Linked DNA regions of Homo sapiens: region 2 is linked to region 1. A link means that fine-mapping ties the variant in region 1 to the expression of a gene that starts in the linked region. Tissue or cell type: whole blood. Region 1 holds a variant in brackets; the other region holds the start of a gene. All regions are shown on one strand. Distances are between the middles of the regions.

Region 1 (8,101 bases):
ATTGTATGAATGAATTACATATCCTATTAGATACAATAACTAATTTATATACATGCTATATATAAAAGTTGGCACACTAAAGCCCATGAGTCAAGTCTGGCCCATGACCTGTTTTGGTATAGCCCCCAAGCCAAAAATTACCCTTACATTTTTTAAAGGGTTCTTTTTTTTTGGAGACACAGAGTCTCGTTTTGTCACCCAGGCTGGAGTGCAGTGGCGCAATCTCAGCTCACTGCAACCTTCATCTCCCGCTTTCAAGTGATTCTCCTGCCTCAGCCTCCCAAGCAGCTGGGATTACGGGCAGGTGCCACCACACCCAGCTAGTTTTTCTATTTTTAGTAGAGACGGGGTTTCACCATGTTGGCCAGACTGGTCTCGAACTCCTGACCTCAAGTGATCCGCCTGCCTCGGCCTCCCAAAGTGCTGGGATTACAGGCATGAGCCACCACACCCGGCCAAAAGGGTTCTTAAAAAATGAAAACACAACACATAGAAAAAGAATATGTGACAGAAAGCATATGACCCACAACATGAAATATTTATCATCTGGCCCTTTACAGAAGAAGTTCGTGTGCCTCTGCTATATATGAATGTCTGTAAAGTAAAAAACTTTCCAAGATGTAAGGTATGGTCAGCTGCTATGGTTAACACATTGGAAAAACATGACTCACTGTATTTGGTCTTTGTAAGTACAGAACAGTTCTCAGAACACTTATCCAGAACCATCCGTGGACCGAAGAGGTTAGGACAGCATTCCAGTTTGATACAGGTTTGCCGGCAGAATTCAGTCACCCGATCTGCTGTTTTCACTATCTCAACAGTAGCCCGATAACTCTTTCCTTTATATCTGCCATTGGAAGACATCAGATGCCAAATATATTGGGCTAATGATTACCCAGAGAAAAATCAAACATATTAATACACCTAAAAAATATTTTTGCTTCTTGGAATATTCTATGTCCTTTATAGTTCAAGGGCCCTGAAAACAACAAGGAAGTTCTGCATATTGAACTTAAATCAAATTAAATCTGGTAAGCTATGACAACTAAAAGCTGAGTTATTTAAATTAGCAAAATTAAGCTCCTGCTTTCTGTTCCTAAGTTAAGGTTTTCAAATAGTAATTTCACTAACTGCTCTAAAAAGAAAAGTGACTTTTCACTAAGTCTTTCTTTACCCTTGGCAGTGATCCTCAGACTGTTATCCAAGGACCAGTATGACCTGCCAATTGCCTGCCATCCATCCATGACAAGATCAGAAAGCAAGAGTACCTGTTTATAACCTTTCACAGTAATTTGAAAAAGTAATTTTATGTCTCTTACATCTAATAACAAAAATTGTTCTTGCATTTTTATGTCTTAAATTTCTTATTTCCTTTTTGTTTTTGAGATAGAGTCTCGCTCTGTCACCCAGGCTGGATGAAGTGCAGTGGCATGATCTCAGCTCACTGCAACCTCCGCCTCCCAGGTCAAGAGATTCTCCTGCCTCAGCCTCCCAAGTAGCTGGGATTACAGGCACACACCACGACACCTGGCTAATTTTTGTATTTTGAGTAGAGACAGGGTTTCACTATGTTGGCCAGGCTGGTCTTGAACTCCTGACCTCAGGTGATCCGCCCACCTCAGCCTCCCAGAGTGCTAGGATTAGGGGCGTGAGCCACGGTGCCCGGTCTTAAATTTCGTATTTCTTATAATTCATTCTATCATATTTTATAAATGTATTGATCCATGAAAGAATGGAAATCTAAAAAAGAAAAACAAGCCTGGGCCTTCACCACAAATAGCTGAAAAAGCCCTGCCTAAGGAAACATAAGGCTTCTGATATTATCCACAGAACTGATTCTGTGAATTTTTTTTGTTGTTTTTTGTTTGAGACAGAATCTCCCTCTGTCACCCAGGCTACAATGTAGTGGCACGATCTCAGCTCACTGCAACCTCCACCTCCTGGGTTCAAGCAATCCTCCTGCCTCAGCCTCCCAAGTAGCTGGGATTACAGGCGTGTGCACCGTGTCTGGCTAATTTTTGTATTTTTAGTAGAGACAGGGTTTCATCATGTTGACCAGGCTGGTCTTGAACTCCTGACCTTGTGATCCGCCCGCCTCGGCCTCCCAAAGTGCTGGGATTACAGGTGTGAGCCACTGTGCCACGCCGATTCTGTGACTTTTTAAAGACAAGTAAAAGTAAAGAGTAAAAACAAGTAGTCCACTCACTTGGCTTTTAGGACTTCCCCACATCCGTGCCACACAGAGTCTTTGTCCAGCTGGAGCTCCCGAAGGACACGGCTGGGTTTGTAGGCTGCATTGATAAGTAAAGTGAGGACCTGAGCTCAGTTTTAAAGCAGAAACACAGATTGGGAAGGAGAAAAGCAGACCATTAGAATCTTGTCATCTCTTCCTTAAAATGTTAAGATTATTTAGGAGGTTAAATTCTAGTCATATGAATTAACAAATGTTAACAAAATAATAGTATCAGAGATATTACAGCCACCCAAAGGTGCAGATAAGAGAGTAACCAGATCCTTTTCAACATTTTTTAAATGTTACGGTCAGGAAAAAAACAGGTACCATGATTTTCAAATTGCTCCAGAACATGCTTCCAAATGCTTTCCCAGCCACGGTACACACAGAAAATTATATTTGTTTGGACCACTGTGTAGACAGCTGAGCCTTCTTGTGGCTGGAGGAGTCTGGTCCAGACGCTCTGGCTTCCCCAGATCCTGACTTGCCACCCTGAGGGCTGAAAGGTCTCTTATCTGTTACTTGCAGCATATCACACTGGCTGGGAAGAACAGAAAGCCCAGCAGATGTGTAGCTTTATCACGGTCGCTAGGTTAATGCCACATAGCCACGGCCTTTCAGTCATAGAGTAACCTCACAGTTCACTTTTGTATAGTTCTCTTCTGGTCTCTGACAGAAGACCTTTCTACCCTGACAGAGGTGAACCTGCTGTGTGAAGAGTTGTTTACGTGAATGTTTCCTAGGGAGGAGAAATAATTACATACCCTCTTCACTGTCCAAAACATGAGAAAAGTTAGTAACTTTTGATAAAACCTAGAACTGTCACATCTATGGCATGTGGCTCCCTGTAGAAATGACCATAGGAGAATGCTGTGAAATTTCCAAGTTATTTTGCTCTAGGCCAGAACCTTACCTCTCTAAGGACCAGAACACAGTTCCCAGGTCCTACACATTGAGGCAGCTCAGCAATTCTTCCTTTGTTAAGATATGGCCCTGAGAAGCAACGGTGGTTGAAGTATATCTTTGGACAGCAATATTTTCCATTAATCATAACTGGGAAATGAAGAAAAACAAATATTCAAAACAGTCATTCTCTACCCCACGTTTCCAAAGCTGAACTGCCAGGGAAGAAAAACGAAGCACATGTACCATTATATTAATATAAAGTTTGGAATTACTTATTTTGAAGCTTAACATGTTGTCTGAGAATGCTCTTAAGTAACTTACAGAGCTTATCACTCTGCTGAAATCAAAGAGGGTCCTGAATTAACATGCTGATTAGTTCCTAGGTTACTGCAAAATTGATAGAAGAACCCTATCTTCTATTAATAAAGAAAGTGGAGGGTGTATTTTAAGAACACATGAGGATTCTGGATGATCAATGATTTCTTTTCCAGGTCTTCAAAAACCAACTTTCAATCATCTATTCTGGAATATTTATAGAAATTGTTGAATATTATTGAGAATTAGTTTGTCTCCTAAAAACCACCAAACTAATATGTTGGCAGCCTTTGATGTTGTGAGAGCAATCCCATCTCTGAGATTTCTCAGAGGGCTAAAAGTATGCTGTGACCACATCTCTAAGTTTTTTTTGTACTGTGGGGTATAACTGGGTCTGGAGACCCTTTTCTTCAACTATTTGTCTGTATCAATACTGTCCTTCAATTTAATGTTTTTAAAAAATCCCCTCATAGTGGTAGGCATGTCAGCTGTTGAATGTAAAAAATTCAAAGACACTAAAATACTGCTATAAAGCACAGAGAAGCTCTTCTAATAGATATGCCTGTTAATCCAATGTTAAGGAAAGATATGCGCACACTGCCCATTGTTGATAGGATCCTGCAGTTCATAATGTTTTCTCTTTAATTAAGAATAGTCACAGCCAGGTGTTGTGGCTCATGCCCGTAATCCCAGCAATTTGGGAGGCCAACGGGGGAGCACATCGCTTGAGTCCAGTTTGAGACCAGCCTGGGTAACACAGTGAAGCCCCATCTCTACAAAAAACAAAAACAAAAACAAAAACAAAAAAATCAGCCACATGTGGTGGCATATGCCTGTAGTCCCAGCTACTCGGGAGGCTGATGTAGGAGGACAGCTTGAGCCCAGGAGGTGGAGGTTGCAGTGAGCTGATATCACTGCAC[T/C]GCACTCCAGCCTGGATGACACAGCGAGACCCTGTCTCAAAACAAAACAAAACAAAAAAACGATGGTCTATCATAGTGGCCAGTATGCTGGTGCTCACATTTCCAGTTGAACCCTGCAACCCAAATGCCTCTTTTCAGAATTAAGGCACTCATACCCCTGCTGCTGGGTATGTTGGCAGCTTACAGTTCCCAGTTTTATGTCTATTCTGGAATCACCCTGAACTGGGTACTGCTCTCAGCAGGAGAGGGCCACCTTGCCCCTTGTGAGGTGGGGAGGGAGCAGTGGCTTACTTCCAATAACTGGTCAGTAAAGTGTGGCCACCACACCTGAATTAGGATCAACTCTGAGTGGTTAGATCAGCTTCAGGGCTCCCAGTGGAACTAGAAGAAACTTCTGTTGCAACTGCATCATGGTTCAACTTATCTCTCTGCCCAATCCTACTTCCTTTACTCCTTCTAAGGAGCTGTTCCCAAAAATACTCCCCAATGAAACTCCTGAATGCATATGTCAGAGTCTCAGACTCTGTTTCCCAGGGAACCTGACCTATGACAAAACCCAAACCAAAAGGCCTTGGCTGAGGTTGTGCAGAAGATATTAATGTCTTAAATTCTGTGGTTTCAGTAGGCATTCGAATGGCCAGGAAAGCATCAAAAGCAAGGAGTTACACAGTCCTAACCCTCTATGTACAAATGATGTAATGAAAAGGCAGTAGGTACAAGAGACGGAAGTACGGGTTTCTAATTTGTGAAAGACTTCAGTTTCATTTCTGGTCTTTCTACTCATAAGCTGTGTGATCTCTCTGAGCTTCGATTTCTCTTCTAGGCATTTACTAAATATCACCCAAATGCGCAATCTGTGCTAGAATACACACAGCCAGGATGCTAAACATTACACAACAAGCACGTGGAAGTTAAGAATAGTTCAAGAGAGGACCCTGGACAAAAGGCTTGAACCTCCAGCAAGGATTTTTCTCTCATTTATCAGGCATTAATTGCCTCTGGGACAATTTCTTTTTCCATTGCTTTATTTTTTTCACATAAACTGTGAAATTTATATACAAAGTATGCATATCATAAAAAAGGGTTTTAAAAAGAATAAACTTCTACCTCTCAACCATCTAGCTTAAGAAAGAACACTGCCTGGAAAACTTCAGGTTCTTTAGCTAAAGTCAAGGATGGTAACATTGGCCTTCTGAGCCGTTGGCACACAACGGTTGATCAGTAAAGAATAGCTACAATTATTAGAAATGGACGGAACTATCAGCCTAGAGATGATTATTAAACTAAACACATCTTAGACAGTTATAACTCTAAAGTCACAATTAAGAGACCCCTCTATGAAGACACATACTATACATCAAATGTACTGTTTTAAGTTATTTTCAGATATAGTCCATTAAAAGAAACTAAGTCTTCTTTTCCTTAAGATGACATGTGCTTATACCTGACTCTGTGGAGTTCAGCTCCTGATTCCTCAGGCCCTCGTGGACAGTCCTCGAGGATGGTACTCTGGGTCAAGAAAACACAGTAAAATAGTGAGATAATTCTTAAGATCAGTAAAGTGTGAGGCTTAGTTTCCTTCAAATCTAAGAAGAAAGCAAATGTGGCATGTTCGCAAAATCTGTAACAGAAGGTACTCCCTTGATGATACTTTTTTTTTTTTTTTTTTTTTTTAAAAGAACAAGGCTGGATGCGGTGGCTCACGCGTAATCCCAGCACTTTGGGAGGCTGACGTGGGCGGGTCACAAGGTCAGGAGATTGAGACCATCCTGGCTAACACTGTGAAACCCCGTCTCTACTAAAAATACAAAAAATTAGCTGGGCATGGTGGCAGGCACCTGTAGTCCCAGCTACTAAGGAGGCTGAGGGAGGAGAATGGCGTGAACCCAGGAGGCAGAGCTTGCAGTGAGCCGAGATCGTGCCACTGCACTCCAGCCTAGGCAACAAAGCAGGACTCTGTGTCAAAAAAACCAAACAACAACAACAACAACAACAACAACAAAAAACTACAACAACAAAAAAGAACAATTGTTTTTAAAACTATATATAGGGCATAATGAGCCAATGGACAGTCTGTATATAGCATTGTGATACTACATGTTCAAACTTTCTCTTCATTCACTGGGCAAAAAAATTACAAAATTTCTTGTGAGATGCTTAAATCACAAATAAACTACTCATTTTTCAACAGTCAAAGAACAGAAACTTTATATAGGGTTCGTTTTCTTCGTCCATCAGTTTTCAAATTAAAGACAAATTATGTTATTTAAAAAAAAACAGAGGCTTATTCTGTATGTAGCAATCACTGAAAAAAGGCTAATTTATCTTTTAGAATGCATCCTAACTAAAGCTTTGGATCAGTTTTGGCAACTAAGTCAAGGAAAAATCCAAGGTCAGTCTTTTTTTTCATTGTTACCTCACTTCTCTACTTGGTATAAATGTCTATGGCCTTTCTCTCCACTTCTGTTGTTAGTTTTATTACCCACATAGTTACAAAGGTTTAGGTAGTTATAGAATTTGCTATATACAGAATTGTTTCCTCCTACTCAAATTCATATGTTGAAGCCCTAGTGCTCAGTGTAACTGTATTCGAAGATAGGGCCTTGGGGAAGTAATTAAGATTAAATGAGGTCATAAGGGTAGGCTATAATCCAATAGCATTGATAGCCTTACAGGAAGAGAGGGGTCGGGGGGTGCCGGGGAGAGAAAGATTTTTCCACCATGCAAGGACACAGCCAGAAGACAGCCATCTGCTAGCCAGGGAGAATGCCCTCACTAGGAAGCAATCTACCAGCACCTTGATCTTGGATTTTCCAGCCTCCAGAATGTAAGAAAATAAATTTCTGTGGTTTAAAGCAGGGGTCCCCAACCCCAGGGCCACGGACCAGTACCCGTCTATGGCCTGTTAGGAATGGGGCCGCACAGCAGGCAAGGGAGCATTACGGCCTGAGCTCGGCCTCCTGTCACATCAGCAGCAGCATTAGATTCTCACAGGAGTGTGAACCCCATTGTGAACTGTGCATGTGAGGGATCTAGATTGCATGCCCCTTAGGATAATCTAATGCCTGATGATCTGAGGTGGAACAGTTTCATCCCAAAACCATTCCCCACCCCAGTCTGTAGAAAAACTGTCTTCCACGAAACCGGTCCCTGGTGCCAAAAACGTTGGGGACCGCTGGTTTAAAGCCACCGAGCCTGTGGTATTTTGTATGGCAGCCCCAGCAGATTAATAGAGAATTCAACACCCAATGTTTTAAAACACACATATACACACAGAAACATTTGTACTTTTAAGGTTTGAAGGCACTACTAATTAACTGTTTCTCAAAAGCTGTGTGTGCAGGTATGTTACAAACGAAGAATTTCTTGATGGGCACAAAGCCACTCCTTTGAATGTGCCTTTTCTTTTAGAGCTGTCTTCTACCCCAGCTTTATTTTTTTCCACTGTGACAAATCATACCCTAATTTACAATTTTTGCTCTTCCTTAATGAATACCAGCATGGGCACTCTTATTTTCTTTCTTTTATTCAACTATCTTAAGGCTCTAAAAGCCAAAGAAAACTCAATTTAGACACCATCTTGAGAATGCATTTTACCCTTTTGTATATAATGCCATTTTAGAAAATGCATATACTGCAAAGAGAAGTATACAAATGATCAAATGTTGAATTAAAAAATTATGCTTCCATCTGAGAAAATGAGGAAATATACCCTCTGAAATAGTTA
Region 2 (8,101 bases), 83 kb before region 1:
GATGATCCTGGGGGCAGAAGGGTGGGAGTTGTTGAGAGCCTGGTGGCAGGGGCCCATTCCACTCCTGCCTCCTCCAGAGAGCCTTTCTGGACTCGGTGTGCCTCTTGACACAGTGACTCCCATCTTTGCCTGAGCCCAGTGCCATTTATTATGCACCTACCGCATACAGGACCCTGTGCAGGGCACTCTGCAAAGTGCTCCAGGCCTCTAGCTCCCGGAGGTGTGTACAGTAACAGTAAGCATTCATTTTATAGAAGGGACGAAGGGGAGGCTGCAGAGGGGCAGGGCCGGGCTAAATCCTGCCTTCTCTCCACCTGTCCAGTCTGGCCGAAGCTGGCCCACATTCCCACCTGCCCCTTCCATTTCACGGACTGTTCCAGGGGAACTAGTTCATCACCAGCAAGAGCTCTCTGAGTCACACTTGTTCCCAGCCCTGCGTGCAGCCGTGTGGGGCCAGGACTGAGGAGGAAGCAGACGTAGGGCTGGAGGCTCTGAGCACTTTCCCCCTACAGCAGTCTCCCCGCTCCCTCCCACAAGAGGCAGGCACCCTATAGGGAGGCTGGCATATCTGGAAGGAGGTTTTGGACAACTGGTGGACGGGACTCCTGGGTGTGTGGACACACTCCTAGCAGCCATCCTTTGGGGGCTGAGAAAGAATGGCCCAGGCCATTTCTCAGGGAGGAAAACGACTTTTTCAGAGCCTCCTTGTGGGGTGTGTAGGGATGTGCCTGGTCAACTTCATGTGGTAGTGTGTGGCAGTGGGCAGGAGGGGGAGCAGCCAGGATGTCAGGACTACGCGTCCCTCCTGCCTGACCTTCCTGGTTATAATTTAACTCTAGCCCGGGATGGGGCTGGTGAGTGGGCAGTGGCACTCCTCCCCCTGGGTAGGCAGTGCTTCATCTCTCCAGATGGCCAGCTGGGGCTCCTGGCCAGGTCAGGGAGCAGGGAACCTGCTCTCTGCTCCCCTAACTCATGCAGCAACAGGTTCTGGGTCTAGAGAAGGCAAGTGACAGTCTTGGGCTCTCAGCAGATGCCACGGGCCTGGACCTGGCAACTGCTGACCCTGGCACCCATGTCGAAGGCTGACACAGCCCGTGGGGCTTGCACTGCAAGCTGGGCAGCATAGGCCCGGGCTCTGGGTTAGGAAAAGTAGAGGCTGCGGTGGAGTGGGGGATGCTTGGCGCCTGAGGGAGGAGACTAGCCCCCACTGCAGTTTTCCAGAGGCCACAGTGTGGGACCCCACATGAGACACTCCCTCTCTGCCCCACCATCGCCCTGTTTCTGGGAAGAGTCTTGCCCTTGTCCTAAATCACAGCTTTTCCTGGCAGCAAGGGACAGGCGGCATCCTGGTGCATTTAGTAAACATTGGAAACTGAGTTGGGAAGGGTAGGGGAGGGTGGCAGAGGACAAAGTGAGGACCATCCTTGGCTCATAGAATTCAGAGAAACCTCAGGCATCTCTCACGCAGCCTGAGCAAAAATGTCCTCTGCAGGATCCCAGCTGGGGCAGACCTAGGAGAATCCTCCTCAAGCCACTCTCCACTGTGAGGAAGCCAAGGGTCTAGAAGGTTTTCTGTACTTTGAGCTGGAATGTGCATTTTGGTGACTCCCTCTTGCCTGGTCTGGCCTCAGGAGGCCTCAAGTCTGTGCTCCTCAAAGGCAAAGTCACAAAGATTCTGTGGTTCTCTGCCTAACACCTGGACAGCACTTAGGGATGATGAATGGCTGGATGGAGGGAAGGACGGGGGCATCTTTGAGAATAAGTCCTTTGGCAAGCCCCTGTTCCTGTGTGGCCCCAGGTGCAGGGTGTACTCCTGAAGATGTACACCCTGGCATGCCTTACTTCAAGAAGAGGGTTTGCTGGCACAGAGCGATGGAGTCATAGCACTGGGGGGTGTGGAGAGGGGAGGAGGGTGGGAAGGCACCTACATGGAGAAGTTGGTGATGAAGGCTTTCTTGGGCAGCTCCATCTGGAAGGTGGCCTCCTGCACAGTATTGGCCCTATTGACCACTCGGCTGGTGACGACCGTGTGGGCAAATCGGGATGAGACCCTGGAGTCCACGGTGAGGCTGTAGATGTCGATGCCATTCTGGACCAGCAAAGAAGAAGGGGGTTGCAGGGTTTCAATGCCACCTCAGCTCGGGGTGACGCTCTTCAAGAGTTGGCCCTGACTCTGGCTCTAGACCAAACCCTGGCTCCCAATCTGACTGAGCCACTGACCAGGCCTCAGGCTGAACCCAGTGAGGCATCTCATATGTGAACATTTGTCTCAGGTAAGAGATAGCAGTGTGCTTCATTCCCCACCCTACAGCACCACAGGGCAGGGGCCACGTCCTTCTTGATCTATAGGGGCCCAGAGCACCCCTTGGAGAAGAACAAGCATGCAGGGGGTGGAGCTGGTGAAGCCAGGGCCAGTGTCTGGGAGGGGCATCACACTCAGCCTTTGGGCAGGGGTGAGAGACCTGGTGGGGTCAGGGAGCTTTGCATGCTGGCTTAGCTTTGCCCAGAAAAAGGGCAGTGACCAGGTCCTTTGATTTCTGGAGACTTTGGCCTCTGTGGCAACAGGGAAGCTCCCACCAGTCTCCTAGAAGGAAGCCCTCAGAGCTGGGAGAATTCGGAGGTAGACTAGAGTCTGGTCTCTGAGAGTTGGGAATCTTCCTCTCTGCTCCGCAGTGGACCCTCCCCAACTCATCCCCACTTCCGCAGGGCACTCCCCTAGCAGGTGCCATTTGCCTTGAGGTCTGTGTCCCCCGAGGAGGGGCACACGGGCACCTCTTACCTGCTTGTGTGTGACATGCTCATGCGCACTGCACCAACTCTGCTCGGCTGCATGCGGCTGCCTGAATGCAGTTTGGCACAGAGGTGCCAAGTGGCTTGTTTATGTGCTTGGGTATTTGCTCTGCGACAAGCACTGTCCTAAGCACTTCATAGATACAATGGGTTTGGTTTTCACAACAAGCACTGTCCTAAGCACTTTATAGATACAATGGGTTTGGTTTTCACAACCGCCACCCTCTGAATAGGTTCTAGTATTACCCTGTTTTACAGATGAGGAAATTGAGACATAGTCAGCATAAATCATTCTCCTGAGGTCACTTACTAAAAGGCGGTAGAGCCAGGCTTGTAAAACTGTATTTCCTCATTTGGAAAATGGAAATGATTGGATCATCCCCTCTATTAGGTGGGAGAATACCAGTAAGGCCCTTGGGGTAGTGCCTGGCGGGAGGTCTGCACCATTTTTTTGCACACACAGGGATGCACACGCACTTGTGCTGACACGCTGGCACATGCGGAGGCTCTTCCCCACTTCCCAGGCGTTCTCTCATCCCCCAGCTCACGCCACACCCATGGACACTGGCTACCTTTTCGGCAGTAGTAGTCTGGTGGATGGCCAGCAGTGAAAGCAGGACGAGAACTTTGCTGCAGGTACGGACAGGCCTTGGGGGCTTCATCGTGGCTCCAGTGTCTGCCAGGAGGCTTCTGAACTCGACAGCAAGTGGGGAATGGATTAGTAACTTGTTTGCTGCCCCACCCACATGGGGGCAGGTTCTGGGAAATTGGGATCTACAAGCCAAAAACCACAGTGACCTCAGATAAGCAAATGACGAACGTCCCATGGACCTTGGCTGGGGGCAGGAATGTATACCAAAGAAAGGTAGGCTCAGTTTGGAGTGGGGGTACATGCCCCTTCTGAAAAGTGCGAAACCTTCACCAGGACCCTTCACACCAGGCATTCCACCAAGCTCCACAGGGCTGGGAGGGAATTGACAGTGAAGATGTCAGTCTGCTCTCCCTAAGTCCAGCCCGGGGAGAAACAGCGGGGGATGGTGGGGAAGACTAGGGCTACAGGGCTACCCTAGCGGCTTCCCGGAAGAAGGGGGCTTGGCCACCAGGTAAGTGTGTCTGGCTGATGGGAGGGCCCAAAGGCATGGAGTGACTCTGGGAGGTGTCTGTGTGGGGCAGATCTAGAGTCAGGATAGATACGCCGTATTTCTGAAGTGAGAGGTGCTGGGCACGGGGCGCCTCCTTCTCTCTCCTGGGGTCCCAGGTTGCTGTTTGGGTGCCATTAATCTAGCCAGGGCTTTAGGTTCAACCCCAGCAAGGCCCCCAAAACAAGAATGGCAATACAACTGAGTCATAAACCTGCCACATCCTGTGGCACAGAGGTCTCCATGCGGGGAGTTTATTGACAGAAGAGCATGGAACAGAAGACAGACCTGACAGTGCCAGCAGCTCCTGAGGGGTGACTGGGGAGTCATTTGGTGGAGCAGAGGGAGCCCAGGAATCGCTGGTTGAGAGAGGGCAGAATGCTGTTGTCATGAGCAGTGTGATGCTGCCACAGCCCAGACCCAGGGGAGCGCTGCCCAAAGGCCTGGGGTGGGTCCCGGCCTTGCTAAAGTTGAAGCGCTCTGCTCCTTGTAAAGTGGGATCGAGTGAGTACATATTATGCGCTCTGGGCACCGCTGGGGCTCGTGTTCCCTGGTGGCTCTGGGGAAGCCAGCTCCTGAGTCTGTGGCCACAGATGGGTAAAGATGAGTCATAAAAGTGTGGCCAGATGCCAAGTCCTGGATCAGGGAAGGACGGCGGCTCCGTGACACCAGCCCTGAGGGGGCCAGCTGCCTTGGGAACCTATCGGGGGCCTTGGGGCAGCCAGTGGCTTCCAGAGGCTGGGGAGGGTTTCTCCACCAGTCCTGTCTCCATTAGAGGTGGCGGCAGGCCTGGGGCAAAGGTGCCATAGACTGGAGCTATTTCTACAGCTGCAAGGAAGACGTTCCCCTTCCTTAGCATGACTGGCCAGAAGCCTCATCTCTGCGCACGTCTCCACTGCTCACCCTTTTGGCTCTGGATACGATTGGGATTACACAGGGGAACACGCTCCTTTCAGTGTCTGGGGGAAGAGTCTCCCCATGGAGTCCAGCAAGTAGGACTGGGCCCTTCCTCACAGCAGGGCTGCTCCCTTGGGGCAGAGAGCACAGGCCCAGCCCGGACTCAGGGCTATATAAGGTGGCCAGGCTGGCCGGGACTGTGGGAAACGTTCTGGGCAGCCAGAACCTCCTGGGACAGGAAGGCATCCCCAGCAGGCATCAGCCCCGAGCCAGGCACCACAAGCCCAGGCTCTGCCAGTCCAGCTCCGAAAAGAGCCACTGTCAGCCTGTCCATGGTCATGGTCTTGCCATCACAACGGGACAGGCCTCTATGGGTCTTTTGAACCTGGCACTTCCAGGCACACAGGGGACAGAGGACTGGAGAGAGAAGGGTCATGCAGGCTGAGAATCTGGTGTTCCATGCCCCAGACAGCATGGTTGGAGCAGAATGTGGGAGTCTTACCCCTGCTGTTTGGAAGAGACGGTAGCTCAGGAAACTGACTGCCAGAGAGGAATCTCAATCTGGCTCTGACTTGGAGGGGACAAAAGCCGGGAGGAGGCAGTGTGAACAAAAGTGTAGGGAGGGAGAGGGGTTTTGAGGTCCCTAGTGCAGTGCAGGGAGAGGGGTTTTGAGGTCCCTAGTGCAGTGCAGGGAGAGGGGTTTTGAGGTCCCTAGTGCAGTGCAGGGAGAGGGGTTTTTGAGGTCCCTAGGTGCTGCAGAGCCTGCAGGTCCTCAGAGGCTTCTCAGCAGCTTCTGTGGAAGGCAGGAGGAGAGGTGGTCCCTGAGACCCCACCCACTTCACTCTGAGCAGTGTCATCATGGCCTGCTTTATGGAATAGACTCCAGCTCAACTCCCCTGTAGTATAAAAGGGGAAACTGAGGCTCAGAAAAGTCTGAAGTCACAGGTCAGCACTGAGTCTCCATGTCCAAGGCAGCATGTGGCAGTGCCCATAATAGCACCTGTGCTATCCCCTGGGATCCTCTTAAACGGACATGTTCCATGTTCCCACCCTGTCCTCCCTCTCAATAGTGGCCATAGCCAGGGACCAACCAACACCTTCTGATTGCTGGGGCCACGTGGGCATCCTCTTTATTGGTGCTTCCAAGGTGCTGGTGCAGAGCCCTTGGCTGAAGGGCCTGGACTGTGGGGGAGGGTGGCAGCCCCAGAGACAGCAGGGGAGAGGAAGCGTTCTGGCATAAAAAAGAGTTCCTGGGAAAGGCTCCTGTTTCCGAGCATTCGGGCAGCAAGGGGAGTGGCGCACACTTCTCAGCCGAAGACACTCTTGGTGGGTCCGGCTTTGGGCTTCTCAAAGACAGTCTCGGTACCTGTGCGGGTGCGGCTGAACACCGACGGGGCGGCCGAGCCAGCTTGCTCTGTGGGAGGAGGTAAAGTCAGGGGCCAGCCTAGCTTCCTGGGAGGGAAGATCCCTTACGATGGGAGCACCTTTCTTGAACCCAGGAATACTGGATTCTCAGAAAAGGATCCTTGACCACCTCCCCCCACCACTGACACACACCTGCACCCCCATCCCCAGCCCCAGATGGCATGAGGACACTCACCACACTCTCGCATGACCTGGTAGGTCTTGGACTTGATTTCCTGGTTCTTGGTCAGGTTTCCTCGGGCCCCCTTCAGGTCCTCGTCCTTCACAGGGGGGCGCTTCTTCTTGATAGGGGCTTCCTGAGCACCAGCCTTGGAGATCCAAGAGCCTCATCTTACTACCTGAAGCCTCGGTAGAAAGGCACACCTACCTCTGTGCCTTGGCCAAGACCCCTCTTCTCTGCTCATTAAACCCAAGCCTATTCAAGGCTCTACTCCTCTTCCAGAGAAAGCCTTCCCAACTATACTCCACCTGCTGCAGGTCTCCCAGCTGTCTTGGTCTGACTTGCCCATGTGCCTTTCCCCTATAGCCTGGGAGCTCTTGGGAGCAGTGGCTGCTGCAGCCTCACACTGGCGTGTCTGGCTACCTGGTCAAGCTCAGGACTGGGCACAGTGGGGAACAGCGAAGGGGACTAGCTCTGAGGTTGGGCAATACTAGGGAATTTGGTTAGTTCCAAAACCTGTTCACTGGGTGGCAAGCGGTTCCTCAAGGATTGCCCCCTTCCAGAAAAGCGCCACTATTTACTTTGTGTCTTTGGGGCTGGAAATGGGGTAGAAGGGCCAGATGCCCACAGAATTACAGTCCAAAATGGCCACCCACCCACAGAGCAGGCAGCAAGGACAGTCCTCTCTCTTGGCAGGCTGGTCTGTCCCTCCAGGGTGGGGGACACCCAGGCTCGGTGTTTACCCTACCCCTCAACCCCAGGCGCCTGTGAGTCTGAGACCTGCCTGTGCTTGGGTGCAGGTGCAGGTATTTCCTCGCTCAGCCTGGGCCAGGCTCCTCAGAGCAACACACTATACCCCTGTACAGCGATGCATCCAGCTGTGTCCCTCCAGCCTCATGTGCACACACATACAGCTTCATGCATATACCATACACAGAGACAGACAGACCTATGTGTGTGGCCACACACAGAGTGCATGGCTGCCGGGCCCATAGCTACAAATGCACAAAGCTCTACACACTGAGCTATATCGGCAGCACACACACAGATGCGCACACACACACACACACACACAGGCACATGCAAAGATCTATCTAGGCCCCCCCCACCCCCAACATTTCTCTCCACTCCTCCTAACAAACCGTGGAATACCACCAAAGCCACATAGAAGAGGGGTTCTTCAGGGGGTCCTCCCTGAGCCCCCATCTCCCAAGGGCTGCAGAGCCTCCAGTTCATGCTTGGGGCTCAGATCAAGACACAGCTGCCAGAGCCGAAAGTGTCCAGGACTCCACCTCCACTCCCTCTGGCATCAACACAGCCCTTGCTGGGTCCTCCTACCTGGGACATGGTGGGTATTGTGTAAGCGCTGGGTCTCTGAAGGCGCCTCTCTGGCAGGCAGCAGCTGCTGGAAAAGATCTGAGTGGAGCCCAGCCTTCTGAAACTTATATAGCCTGCTTGCTTGTCCCGCAGAGTCACTGCCCCTCCTCTGACAGGCTCCCTGATGATTCAGGTCCGCAGGGTCGCTGGCTTCAGAGTTTATTCTCGGAGATGAGAGGGGCTCCCAGTACTGCTGCCTGGGGGCTGCAGCCCTGATGAAAGCAGATGGCTGCAGAGACCCTTTGCCCTCTGGGACAGCTGCTTGATTCGCCGGGGGGAGGTGCTGGCACTGACGGACATGCTTTGTGTTTAC

Evidence for each region. PIP is the estimated chance that this variant, and not a neighbour inherited with it, causes the effect.
Region 2: ITIH4 starts here. The variant in region 1 is fine-mapped to the expression of ITIH4 in whole blood (TOPMed, PIP 0.98).

Annotation. Positions count from the first base shown.
Region 1 is chr3:52,910,332-52,918,432 of GRCh38, forward strand. SFMBT1 (Scm like with four mbt domains 1) reads right to left here. Exons shown (of 21, transcript NM_016329.4): 14 at 5,819-5,883; 15 at 3,147-3,286; 16 at 2,207-2,316; 17 at 672-847. Among named protein-coding and RNA genes, the nearest start is that of STIMATE-MUSTN1, 17 kb to the left of the region's middle. The variant T/C (reference allele first, on the strand shown) is at 4,375.
Region 2 is chr3:52,827,191-52,835,291 of GRCh38, forward strand. ITIH4 (inter-alpha-trypsin inhibitor heavy chain 4) reads right to left here and starts at 3,482. Exons shown (of 24, transcript NM_002218.5): 1 at 3,363-3,482; 2 at 1,929-2,089; 3 at 1-7. The coding sequence starts at 3,452. It overlaps STIMATE-MUSTN1 (STIMATE-MUSTN1 readthrough), which reads right to left. Exons shown (of 10, transcript NM_001198974.3): 9 at 6,427-6,559; 10 at 5,931-6,240. The coding sequence ends at 6,134. It overlaps MUSTN1 (musculoskeletal, embryonic nuclear protein 1), which reads right to left and starts at 7,829. Exons shown (of 3, transcript NM_205853.4): 1 at 7,750-7,829; 2 at 6,427-6,559; 3 at 5,931-6,240. The coding sequence starts at 7,758. The coding sequence ends at 6,134. RefSeq lists enhancers at 226-834, 835-1,442.